3 linked regions of the Homo sapiens genome follow. The protein of the gene in region 2 interacts with the protein of the main gene of each other region in a pairwise test. Each region holds a gene or a part of one and is shown on either strand. Other genes may lie near its edges.

Region 1 (3,650 bases), on a different chromosome or scaffold from region 2:
TGGCCCAGGCGTGGTGGCCCACGCCTGTAATCCCAGCACTTTGGGAGGTGAGGCGGGCGGATCACGAGGTCAGGAGATCATAGCCATCCTGGCTAACACGGTGAAACCTCTTCTCTACTAAAAATACAAAAAAATTAGCCGGGCGTGGTGGCGGGCCCCTGTAGTCCCAGCTACTTGGGAGGCTGAGGCAGGAGAATGGCGTGAACCCAGCAGGGGGAGCTTGCAGTGAGCTGAGATTGCGCCACTGCACACCAGCCTGGGCGACAGAGCGAGATTCCGTTTCAAAAAAAAAAAAAAAAAAAGTAAATTGCATCTGCATGCCTGTTTTCCTGCTAGGCTGAGATGCTTCAGGGCAGGAAATAACCCTAAACACTTTAGTATCTCGTGCTTCTGGATCCCAGTGCGTACTGACTGAGAGGAAGACATTAGAACTAAGCTAGAAAAAGCTGCTTAGGGATGAGATGAAATAAGGCACGTGTAAGAGGGAGAGAGGGAAGGCAATCAGGCTCAGGGAACAGTGAAGCAGAAGGCAAGGAAATGTCCAGAAATTAGGGGGTAAATAATAAGCAGTCATTATTTATCTAATGATAAATAATGAGCAGTCAGCCGTCATTATTTATCTAATGATAAATAATGGTCCCAATGATGAGGGGCTGTCAGGATTGTTTTGGTGAACTATCTTCCTACTCCCCCAGGTATCTTATGTCCATGCTGGGTTCCCCCCGCCACTGAACCATCATAAGCCCTCATTCTGTTGCTTGTTCTGATCGCCTCTGATATCTGCATACAGGTTGAGTATCCTTTTTCTGAAATGCCTGGGACCAGAAGTGTTTTGGTGGGTGGTGTGGGTGTGGGAATGTAGGTGAAGATAGGAATGGAGGCAAAAATGGTTGGGATTCTCTATGATCTGTGGAGCTCTAAGTTGTCTCCTACTTAGCACCAAACCAAGACCTGTTGGTCACTTCCTGAAATGTACCAACTCCTTTCGAAATAAAAGTCAACAGGCTGGGCGTGGTGGCTCACACCTGTAACCCCAACACTTTGGGAGGCCAAGGTGGTTGGGTCACCTGAGGTCAGGAGTTCACGACCAGCCTGGCCAACATGGTGAAACTCCGTCTCTACTAAAATACAAAAAATTAGCTGGGTGTGGTGGTGCATGCCTGTAATCCCAGCTACTCAGGAGGCTGAGACAGGAGAATCGCTTGAACCCAGGAGCAGAGGTTGCAGTGAGCTGAGATGGCGCCACTGCACTCCAGCCTGGGTGACAGAGTGAGACTCCATCTCAAAAAGAAAAATGAAAGAAAGAAAAGTGAACAATGGATTTGAGAAAAGTATCTGCTTAGTAACTGGCAAGATGGTTATTATCCTTTTGAGAAATCATTATTATTTTTTGAGATAGGGTCTCACTCTGTCACCCAGACTGGAGTACAGTAGTGTAATCTAGGCTCACTGCAACCTCTGCCTCCAGGGTTCAGGCATTTCTCCTGCCTCAGCCTCCCGAGTAGCTGGGATTACAGGCATGCACCACCACACCCAGCTAATTTTTGTATTTTTAGTAGAGATGGGGTTTCGCCATTTTGGCCAGGCTGGTCTTGAACTCCTGGACTCAAGTGATCCACCCACCTTGGCCTCCCTAAATTCTGGGATAACAGGCATGAGACACCATGGCCGGCCATTTTTGAGAAATTTTTTCACCGTATGTATCAAATTATTACAATGTTTGTAACTTTGATGTCTCAGTAATACTCTTCTGGAAATCTATTATCGAGAAATAGTCCAAAAGGAAAAAGCTATGCTTATGAAAATTTTTAACTGTGGCACCACTCTTGTGAGTGAAAAATCACAAACAACCTAAATGTTCAGTAGTATAATAATTAAGTAAATGATGATACAGGCTCAGCAGCTCCAATCAAGAAATCCCAAATCCAAAATGCTCTAAAATCTGAAACTGAGCACTGACATATTGCCAAAAGTGGGAATTTCCACACACCAGTACTTGACACAAACTTTGTTTCATGCACAAAATTATTTAAAATATTGTGTAAAATTACCTTCAGGTGGGCCAGGCACGGTGGCTCATGCCTGTAATCCCAGCGCTTTGGGAGGCCGAGGCAGGCAGATCACCTGAGATCAGGAGTTTGAGAACAGCATGACAAACATGGTGGAACCCCGTCTCTACTAAAAATACAAACAAATTAGCTGGGCATGGTGGCAGATGCCTGTAATCTCAGCTACTCAGGAGGCTGGAGCCGGATAATCGCTTGAAACCGGGGGCGGAGGTTGCAGACCGAGCAAGATTCCGTCTCAAAAAAAAAAAAATTACCTTCAGGCTATGTGTATAAAGTATGTATAAAACAAAACATAAATGGACTTTATATTTAGACTTTGGTTCCATCCCCAAGATACCTCATTATGTATATGAAATATTCCAAAGTTCGAAAAAAACCTGAAATCCAAAACACTTCTGGTCCCAAGCATTTCAGAAAAAGGATACTCAACCTATTTGTTATTAACATGGAATAGTATGCCGATATCAGAGGCAATCAGAGCAAGCAACAGAATGAGGGCTTATGATGGTTAAGTGCAGGGGATACCCAGCATGCAGATAAGATACTTGTGTTCCAGTTCTGAACCAAGTGATACCTGATGCTTACAGCATTATTATGAGGACATATATTTTGGACAATGGAGGGAAACTTGTAAACAACTTAATTTGTTGGGAATAATTATAAATGAATGTTAATTTGTTAATCTGTTAATATGAATGGTTTGGATGTGATAAAAAGGAAAGAAAAATTAAAATTCCATTGCATTCTCAAATGAGTTTTTTTCCCCAAAGGCTTTTTGGTGGGGATTGGTGGTAGGTGGGAGCCTTCCTCTTTAAGGTCTTGAGTGGTGAGGGAAGGGTCTAGACTCTATGTGGGCGGGTTATTTGAATATGCAAGCATTCCCCTCTTGTGAGGGAGAGAGGGAATTTGGGTGTGTGTTTTGGGGTGTGGAGGTGTGAAGAGCTAGGGGGAGGGAGGATAGGGAACAAGATAAAATTAGGAAGGATAGGGAACAAGATGAAATTAGGTTTCATTTCTACCTAAGTGGTTGTTCTTAAGCGAACTCAGTATTGAAACTTTATTCTGAATTTTGGTGTGCTTTAGTGCTTAGGTTTGTAAAATTGCTGACCCTCTCTTCCCTTCCCACCCCAGGAAGCAGGAAGGCCAGGTATTTCTGACCAATAAAAATTCTACCTCTGTGCCAAAAAAGTGTCCCAGCACGGGGATTCTGAGAGTATTAGCACCTCAATGAAAGTGATAGACAGAGCAGGGCGATGGATCAGCTTGGGGCTGGCAGTTGCCTTCCTGGTTATTTACTTAATGAATAGTTTATTTCCTTAGCCACCTGTTAAACGTGCCTGGGATGTAGTTGTCAACTAACAAAGCCCCTGATGGACAGCTTCCCTGCTGTCCTGATGCTGAGAAGATTTCTATCTGCAGACTCTTGCATAGACTCACTCTTGGCTGCTCTTCCTCCCTGGGGTCAAACAATGAGATCTCTGTGGTGCATTCATAGTCAAAGCCACTTTATCCTCTGGGATCCAGAGTGTCCTCTGCAGGGATGCTTTTGTAGGTGGCCCCTGTTCTCTCGCCTTCCCCCAA
Region 2 (3,650 bases):
TGTATTACAATGAATAACCTTTATTTACTTTCATTAGACTATTAAACACCAGCACAGTCATTTTTCCCCCTGAAACTCGGAGCAGGGCCCATAAAGCAAATCCGAAGCCTAATTGAGTTCATTTTAATTTCTCTCCGATCACAGCGAATTACTCTGGTGATAAATCAGGGGGCAGCTTCACCCCCAGTAGAAGGCCTAATTTGCAGCTAATTACAAAACTGATTTCTACAGGAAGATCAATACGAGAAGGAATTGGAAATGACGAGGCAATCCCGTCCAGCCATGGAGGGGAGGGGGTACTCTAGGGGGGCCAGGAAGCGGAAGGGAAAAAAACAGACCCGAAAGAGCAGGAAATCAGTTTTAATTTAACGTAATATTAATCAGAGCAACTTTTCCTGCTTTGTGCAGGCTCCCGGTCTGCCCAGCTCTGGGGTCTGGCTTGGCCGTGGCTGCAATAAAAAGGCAATTACCCGAGTGTTTCAGGCAGGACACCCTTTCAGAGTCAATGACTGGCCCCCTCCTACCCTTCTGTTAGCCATGTGGACTCTCCCCCTCCCCAATTTCATACCCCAGTGCACAGGCAGACAGCGAGGGGCCCATGGGGCTGTCATTGTTTGTTTTTAAAAAAGGGGCGCCCATACCCGATCAGCCAGCAGTGCCAGGCTGAAGGCCCCACTAGGCCCTTCTCCCAGCTACTGGCTCTGCCAGTCATGTCATGGTTCCCCCTCCTCCCCAAGGCTCCTCGACATCCCATGCCTCTCAACAAGGGTATCCCCACTACTACACCCTACCCGCAGGGGTGCTTAGGCAGGAGATGCTACAGAAACATAAAGGGTGCTGGCATTAAGTGCCCAAAATGTGTAAAGGGTGCTGTGCCTCCGGTTTCACCAAGTCAGGTCTACTACCCGCACAAAACTTGCCATCATCCACCAAGCCCCCGCATCTCCCCTCTGCCCCACCATCTCTTTCTACCCCATCTGGGCGGGCTCCCCTGTTCCTCCTCCCCATCTGCACACCGAGCCCTTTCTCTGTGCGTGCATCAATAGAGAGCTGTCACTTTTCTCTCTCCTCCCAGGGGAACGAGTACTCCCTCCCAGCCCTGACCCCTGGGCTTGATGAAGTCAAGTCGAGTCTATCTGCATCCACCAACCCTGAGCTGGGCAGCAACGTGTCAGGCACACAGACATACCCAGTTGTGACTGGTAAGGGGGCTTCCAGGAGGGTGGGGGCACTGCGTTCAGTGGAGGGTGCCTCAGCCCATGCCATCTGAGGCCCAGTGTGAGGAGCAGGTCCCCCACCGTGATATTTACAGAGAGAACGAGGCTTCTAAAACCAGGGTGCTTCCTGAACAGGGGTGTGCAGATGTGGGGAGAAAAAAACTGGGGTCAGGGCATCTGTGGGCTTCAACCTGGAAAGGCTGATGCTAGGAGGGGCTGTTGCCAGTTCTTCCTCCTGTCCTTCGCCTCTCCCTTTGTCTATTTCTCTTCCCTCTCCCAAGTTGCCCAGAATCATGAGCCTCTTGTTAGGATGTCTGCAGAAAGCAAATAAGCCAGGCTGGTGAGAGTGGAGCATGGGTACCCAGTGTCCAGCCTCCACACTTGGGTCTCCAAGGCTCCTGGGGGACCCGCTTACCGCTCCCTCCAGGCAGCATGGGTGATCATGGCTTTGGGCTTGAGGGCATGGCACCCAGCTCTGTGGAGTTTGAGATGAGTACAATTATTCCAGCCTTCCTCCTGCTTCCCAGAGAGGTCAGTGACACCAAGGCTTGATTTCAAGGCCAGGTAGGATCAGGCTTGGCCCACAATCAAATGCAGAGCTAGGGGCGCCATGGCCAGGAGCCCCTACAAATGAAGAGCAGCAGGGCCAGTTAGTTTGGAAGGGGAGGTGGAGTCCAGGGAAGGCCGCAGAGCTCCAGGCTGTGGAATGCACGTGCCACTGCAGAAGGGTTTCCAGGCCAGGAGACTGCCCAAATGGGAGAGACACGCATTGAGGTGTTATTAAAATTCACCTAATTATTCTGGAGACACTAAAGCCAATGTGCCGTTTGTTCCTTGGGAGACAGGATGATTGAGAAGGGTCTCGGTGGGGATTGGGAGACACTGAGGCGTTACCTGCAGAGCGAGGCAAGCGGAGGTGGCCTGCGGACCCAGCAGCAGGGCTGCAGAGCCAGCGGCAAAGGCAGGGAACAGGCACCGCCCACTCTAGGACTGGGCCCTGGTTCTGCCTGTGAGCTGGTCTGAGTGCGGCTGCATTTGAGCCTGAGCTGGGCTCAGTGGCCACCCAGCCTCCACCTGGGGGCTTAGGAGAGCCCTGTCAGTTTTCCCAGCCTCTCCCTAAGGGGCTGTACTGGTACAACTGTTTCCAGCCTAGATCTTTGGCTAGGGAGTCAGAGGTTGAATTCTAGAAGTGTTGGAGACCTGGACTGGGCTTTCGGGAGTGACGACCTTAGCTGGGTTAGCTGGGCCAGGACACAGCCCATGACCAAATGGCCCTCAGCATGAGCCATCCTTCGCCCAGCTGGGAAGCTCTCTGACCTGCTAGGTATTCTGACCCAAGGCAGAGAGACGGCCCAGGCCAGGCCACCTTTCTCCTGACCTGCTCAGAAGTACAGTGGTCACTTCCCAAAGATGGCCACTCCAGGCACTGTTCAAAGAGAACCCGGGAGACTTCTCTAACCCCATCTGCTGCCCAGCGCTCAGGCCATAGTCTAGAAGGCAAGGGCTTCCTAGGGTGGAGCTATGGATCTTCAGGGTAGGGCTCCTGCCACAGGAGACCCAGGGGCTGGTACAGAGAAGTGCCTCCACCTTGAGCAGCCCCCACCCGCCTCCCCCCCATGGCCCTGGAACAGTCCCAGCTCAGCCTGGGAACATCTCCGGCTGATCCATCTGGATCCAAGTGTGAGAAAAGTTCATTTCAGACCCAGCTTGACATTCCCAGGTGGCAAGTTAGCACTAACATCTCAATCTGTATGCGACATTTCAATCAAGCGAGGAGTAACAAAAGCAGAACCATTAACATTCGGAGCTGTTCACCAGTGGTAATGACGGGGAAACTCGCTCAGAAACTGGAAATTACCAAAAAGAGACAAGTGTGTGGAGAGGTGGGGGAGGGAAGATGGGGATAGGGGTAGGGAATGATTTTTCCACACTTAGGCCAAGATCCACTGTTTGGATTAATAGTGCCATTACCCAAGAAAGAGCTGCAGATTATGCTCATTCTTAAAATGTTTTTGCTGGCAATTAAACTGCTGCAGTTATTGATCTTTGTTGATTTTATGTCCTCCTAATTTGCATAATCTATTAAAGATGAATGATTTATGATGTGTTTATTATGGGGACAAACAGAATTTGCTAGAGGTACTGTCAAGGTGAGCCATGGGGCATTGCTCAGAGACTCCATATGCCATCTCAGCAGTGGGTCCAGCATGTTGGCCTTCAGGCCAGGATATTGTGGGTAGTAGTGAGCAGTGATGCAAGGAGAACAGAAACAGGAGAGTGGACTTTGGGTGAGTTCTTCTAGAAAGATACTGGCATCTGTGAGAACTGGGCTCCAGGCAGAGCTGGAGTGCGGGAGAGGCCCTTAGTGTATTTGTGGACACTGACCTCAAAGAGTCTTTAAAAGCTTATTTTCTTGGCAAATATTAAGGGCTT
Region 3 (4,285 bases), on a different chromosome or scaffold from region 2:
TCACTCTTGTTGCCTAAGCTGGAATGCAATGGCATGATCTCGGCTCATTGCAACCTCCGCCTCCCAGGTTCAAGCGATTCTCCTGCCTCAGCCTTCTGTGTAGCTGGGATTACAGGTACGCGCCACCATGCCTGGCTAATTTTTTGTATTTTTAGTAGAAATGGGGTTTCACCATGTTAGCCAGGCTGGTCTCGATCTCCTGACCTCAGGTGATCCACCTGCCTTGGCCTCCCAAAGTGCTGGGATTACAGGCATGAGCCACTGCGCCCAGCCTAAAGCCAAACAGTTTTATTCATACTGTATACTTTCATCCCAAGTGCAGTTTAAAACAAACAACAACAAAAACTAGAATCTCATTTTCCAAGATCTGACAATATCTCTGTGGCTTAGTGCAATCTGTGAAGTCACATTGTTTTATTAATACATCATAAATATAAAACCTGACTCATACCTTGATTGGAGAACTACGTGCAGCACTCTCACTATGAATTTATGAGAAAAGAAACTGTTAATAGAATCCAGAAAATGTACTACTAGCTGAGGCTTTGAGTACTCAAAAGCCTATTTAAATACAACAATATTTAAAAATAAGACGTATTCAACATTCGCAAGAAAAATTCAGTTTATTGAGACTCATATTGAACATTTGGCCATGACTGGAAACTGTTGAGTCAATACCATGTCTCTTGATATGGAAAGTCTTCATGTATCACAGAAAAATTCTGGAATCTAGAAAGAACTCTGTTATTAACAAGTCATCTCTAATAACACAAACTATTTCACTGAAGATTAACAACTCAGAGAATAAGCACAAGAGCATTCAGCAAACAAAGTGAAGCATTCTATACACATTCACTTTTCTCTCTATCTTGAAAAGATATGGCATTGAGATATCTTTTCTCAGCTGGGCACAGTTGCTGGCACCTGTAATCCCAGCACTTTGGGAGGCCAAAGTGGGAGGAATTGCTTGAGCCCAGGAGTTTGAGACCAGCCTGGGCAACATAGCGGGACTCCATCTCTATAAAAAATCTAAACATTAGCCATTGTGTCTGGCTAATGTTTAAATTTTTTATAGAGATGGAGTCCCGCTATGTTGGTGCCTGCCTGTAGTCCCAGCTACCCAGGAGGCTGAGGCAGGAGGATTGCTTGAGCCCTAGATACCAAGGCTGCAGTGAACCATGATTGCACCACTCCTCTCCAGCCTGAGTGACAGAATGAGACCCTGTCCCAAAAAGATATTTTTCTCCAGGTTACAACTCCTCCTTAAAGCCCCCCAACCCAGAGTGGTCCTATTGTTTTCTGAAATTCTATAGCATTATCTGCACGACTCAAATGGCAATCATCTAAAATCATCTCAAAGGTTATATTTTTTTGTATGGATCCTGTCTCCCTTAACTTGAGTGTGTGCTCCAAAGGCAGGCACCATGCTTTATCATTTGCATGTGTTCTTGTGCCTGTGGCACACTGGTAATATGTGTTTCAGTCTATGATCATTTTAATTCACTCTTCTATTTCTCCCAATCCTGCTTTTCTCTTGTAACTCTTTCCGTATACCATTCTCTAATCTAGGGCCAAATAGTATTTCATGTTTAAAGTTTGATTTCGACAAAAGTAAATCCACCTCAAAATGAAGTCTTGTAAGCTTAATTTTTAAAAATTGCTGTATTTTCTGAAGATAACATCATAATCCATACGGAATCAATTGTACACCCACAGCGAACAAGCAAAATTATAAAATGTATCTCCATCAGTTCTAAGTGCAGAACATTTTAAAAATCTCCTATTCTCAGGCTAAACATCATAATGTTACACATCTTACCATTTTTGGGTAGGTGTTTGGCTTACGCAAAAGCAGACCGGTTACAAATATAACTAATATTAAGATGAAACCAAATGGTAGCCAGAAACGTAGCAAAGTTTTCTTCGATAGGTCTTCACCTAGGATTAAAAATCACACGGAAAGGGGAAGTGTTAGACATTTGCCACTATTTTTGAAACTGAATTATTTTATAAATACTTCAGAACTGAGTTGAGCTTGGAAACCCCTGTCATATTTGCCAGTGCATAAATACCACAATTGTGTTTGAGTATAGCGTTCCTTTCATTTGTGCAATTTTTATATAGAAAAGTACTTTACTGAACTGTGACATGTCTTATTTTCACTTAGAAAAATAACTTCCCCAAACACAATTCTTATTTCCTGATATGAGTTTGTTTATATTTGACCTTGTGAATTCTCCATTTAAAAATGACAAAATATTAGCCAAGTGATTAAACAAACATGTCCTGTGTGTCTGTCTCTTAACTCTCAGTAAGTCAAACGTGTACTTAGATCATAGGATACTGTACCAAGCAAGAGGTATCCTTCAATAAAAATTCCTGTGTGAGTAATGGAAATCATCTTTTAAGGTTACCTTTTTAAAGTTGTCTCATATTTTAAAGACCAAAGGGAGGGATAAGGTTTTTCTTTTCTTTTTGATTTTGCTTTGTTAGTTTAGGGATGGAGTTTTAATGGTTCTTCTGCATAGCAAGAAATGAGCAATCACTAGGCAAACTTAAAAAGCAGACGAAGTTTGGTCTCCCTAAACTAGTACCTCTCACTTGTTTTGGAGTAATATAAAAGATCTTGAATCTTAGCCACGCATCTACAAAGCTCTCTTGATCCCACCTTTTTCTTTGTCCTATTTCCTCACGATCTTGTTTTCTATTAGAAAATTATCAGTCAAATTCACGTGTTCAGAGAAGATTTACAAGAATATAATCCAGAGAAATTACTGATGTAAGTTATCTGTCATGCAAAATTAACAGTGGGAAGGCAGGAAGCTCCTTTGCTGAAGTTCTACTGGCTTTCCCCATACAGAGTCAATCCTGAAGAGGACATACTTTTATTTCCAAAAATATTATTGTCCTATTTTTCTATAACTTGAAACATCCAATAAGAAATGTCCTAAAGAACTGAGACCACATGCAACTCAAGAAATTCCTTGTTTCTAATTTCAAAGTCATTAAGATTCTATGAAGAGGGCTGGGCACAGTGGCTCATGCCTGTAATCTCAACACTTTGTGAGACCGAGGTGGACGGATCACTTGAGGCCAGGAGTTCAAGACCAGCCTAGCCGACACGGTGAAACTCTGTCTCTACTAAAAATACAGAAATTAGCCAGGCGTGGTGGTGCATGCCCGTAATCCCAGCTACTCAGGAGGCTGAGGCACGAGAATCGCTTGAACCCAAGAGGCAGAGGTGACAGAGAGCCAACATCATGCCACTGCACTCCAGCCTGGGTGATAGAGCAAGACTCTGTACCAAAAAAAGGAAAAGATTTCCCTCAAAGCAAGAGAAATCTTAGGCATCACTATCATTGATAAGATTGCATGTAAAATACAGAAAAGAATATATTTTTTGAGGATATGGCTAAAAACTCACCATAACCACTTTATACAATGCATTGACTAATGACGAGATATAGTTCAGGACATAACTTTAGAGTTTCCTGATTTTTTAAAACAGTAACAAAAATGAAAAACATAAAACTAGTAAGTCTTCTTTCTGATTCCATATAGCTCTTGGTTGAGTTTTCCACTGTCTTGCTATTTTTTCTCCATAATCCTTAGTGATTATATAATCTATTAGGCTTCTCGTTTATTGCCTATCTCTACCCAATTGGAAATAAAATGTAAGTTCACTGAGGGTAGAGATTTCTTTACTGCCATATCTGTAATGCTTGAAAAGAGTCTGATACATAGTAGGTGCTTAATAAATATTTGATGAATGAAAGGGATCAATGATACCACTGTATTCGTAGGGAGATAATAGAGATTCCACTATAGTAGAACAACATGAAAGGAGATGAATGATTGATAGATATGGCAGTATCTGTCTGTATCAGCATCAGTATATTTATTTAGAGCTGCATCTATATCTATGTACCTGAAAGAGCAATGCTGAGTTGATTTCCTTCAATTTTGAACATTTATTAGTAATTTCTACTCTTAAAGCTAATACATTGTGAAGCACAATCACATTTTACCTCATTCTTTAGGCTTTTTAGTTTATATTGCTATGTAATTTAAATGACTTTATCACAAATCACTTTAAATCAGTGTTAGAAGTGAATGGAATGAATATGTATTTTACTATTCATGACCTTTTAATTAGAAAAATATTCCTTTTGAATAGTATTAGACACCCAGAAACAAATGTATGCTGATCTATACTTGCTTTAAGATTTCTGTTCTCTTGAATACTGAAAGCATATGAAAATATTGATTAAAATAAGTTCCTGCC

What was found.
Region 1: the proteins of PAX2 (region 2) and PRDM14 interact in a two-hybrid assay, tested with the Homo sapiens proteins (one large-scale study listed by BioGRID and IntAct).
Region 3: the proteins of PAX2 (region 2) and IL13RA2 interact in a two-hybrid assay, tested with the Homo sapiens proteins (one large-scale study listed by BioGRID and IntAct).

What each region holds. Positions count from the first base shown.
Region 1 is NC_000008.11:70,061,176-70,064,825, reverse strand, and holds part of PRDM14 (PR domain zinc finger protein 14), read left to right. Parts: intron 1-3,650. UniProt on the Homo sapiens protein: Transcription factor that has both positive and negative roles on transcription. Required for the maintenance of embryonic stem cell identity and the reacquisition of pluripotency in somatic cells.
Region 2 is NC_000010.11:100,808,035-100,811,684, forward strand, and holds part of PAX2 (paired box protein Pax-2), read left to right. Parts: intron 1-1,075; coding exon 1,076-1,202; intron 1,203-3,650. UniProt on the Homo sapiens protein: Transcription factor that may have a role in kidney cell differentiation. Has a critical role in the development of the urogenital tract, the eyes, and the CNS.
Region 3 is NC_000023.11:115,003,378-115,007,662, forward strand, and holds the end of IL13RA2 (interleukin-13 receptor subunit alpha-2 precursor), read right to left. Parts: intron 1,939-4,285; coding exon 1,820-1,938; intron 730-1,819; coding exon 703-729; 3' UTR 605-702; downstream 1-604. UniProt on the Homo sapiens protein: Cell surface receptor that plays a role in the regulation of IL-13-mediated responses. Functions as a decoy receptor that inhibits IL-13- and IL-4-mediated signal transduction via the JAK-STAT pathway and thereby modulates immune responses and inflammation.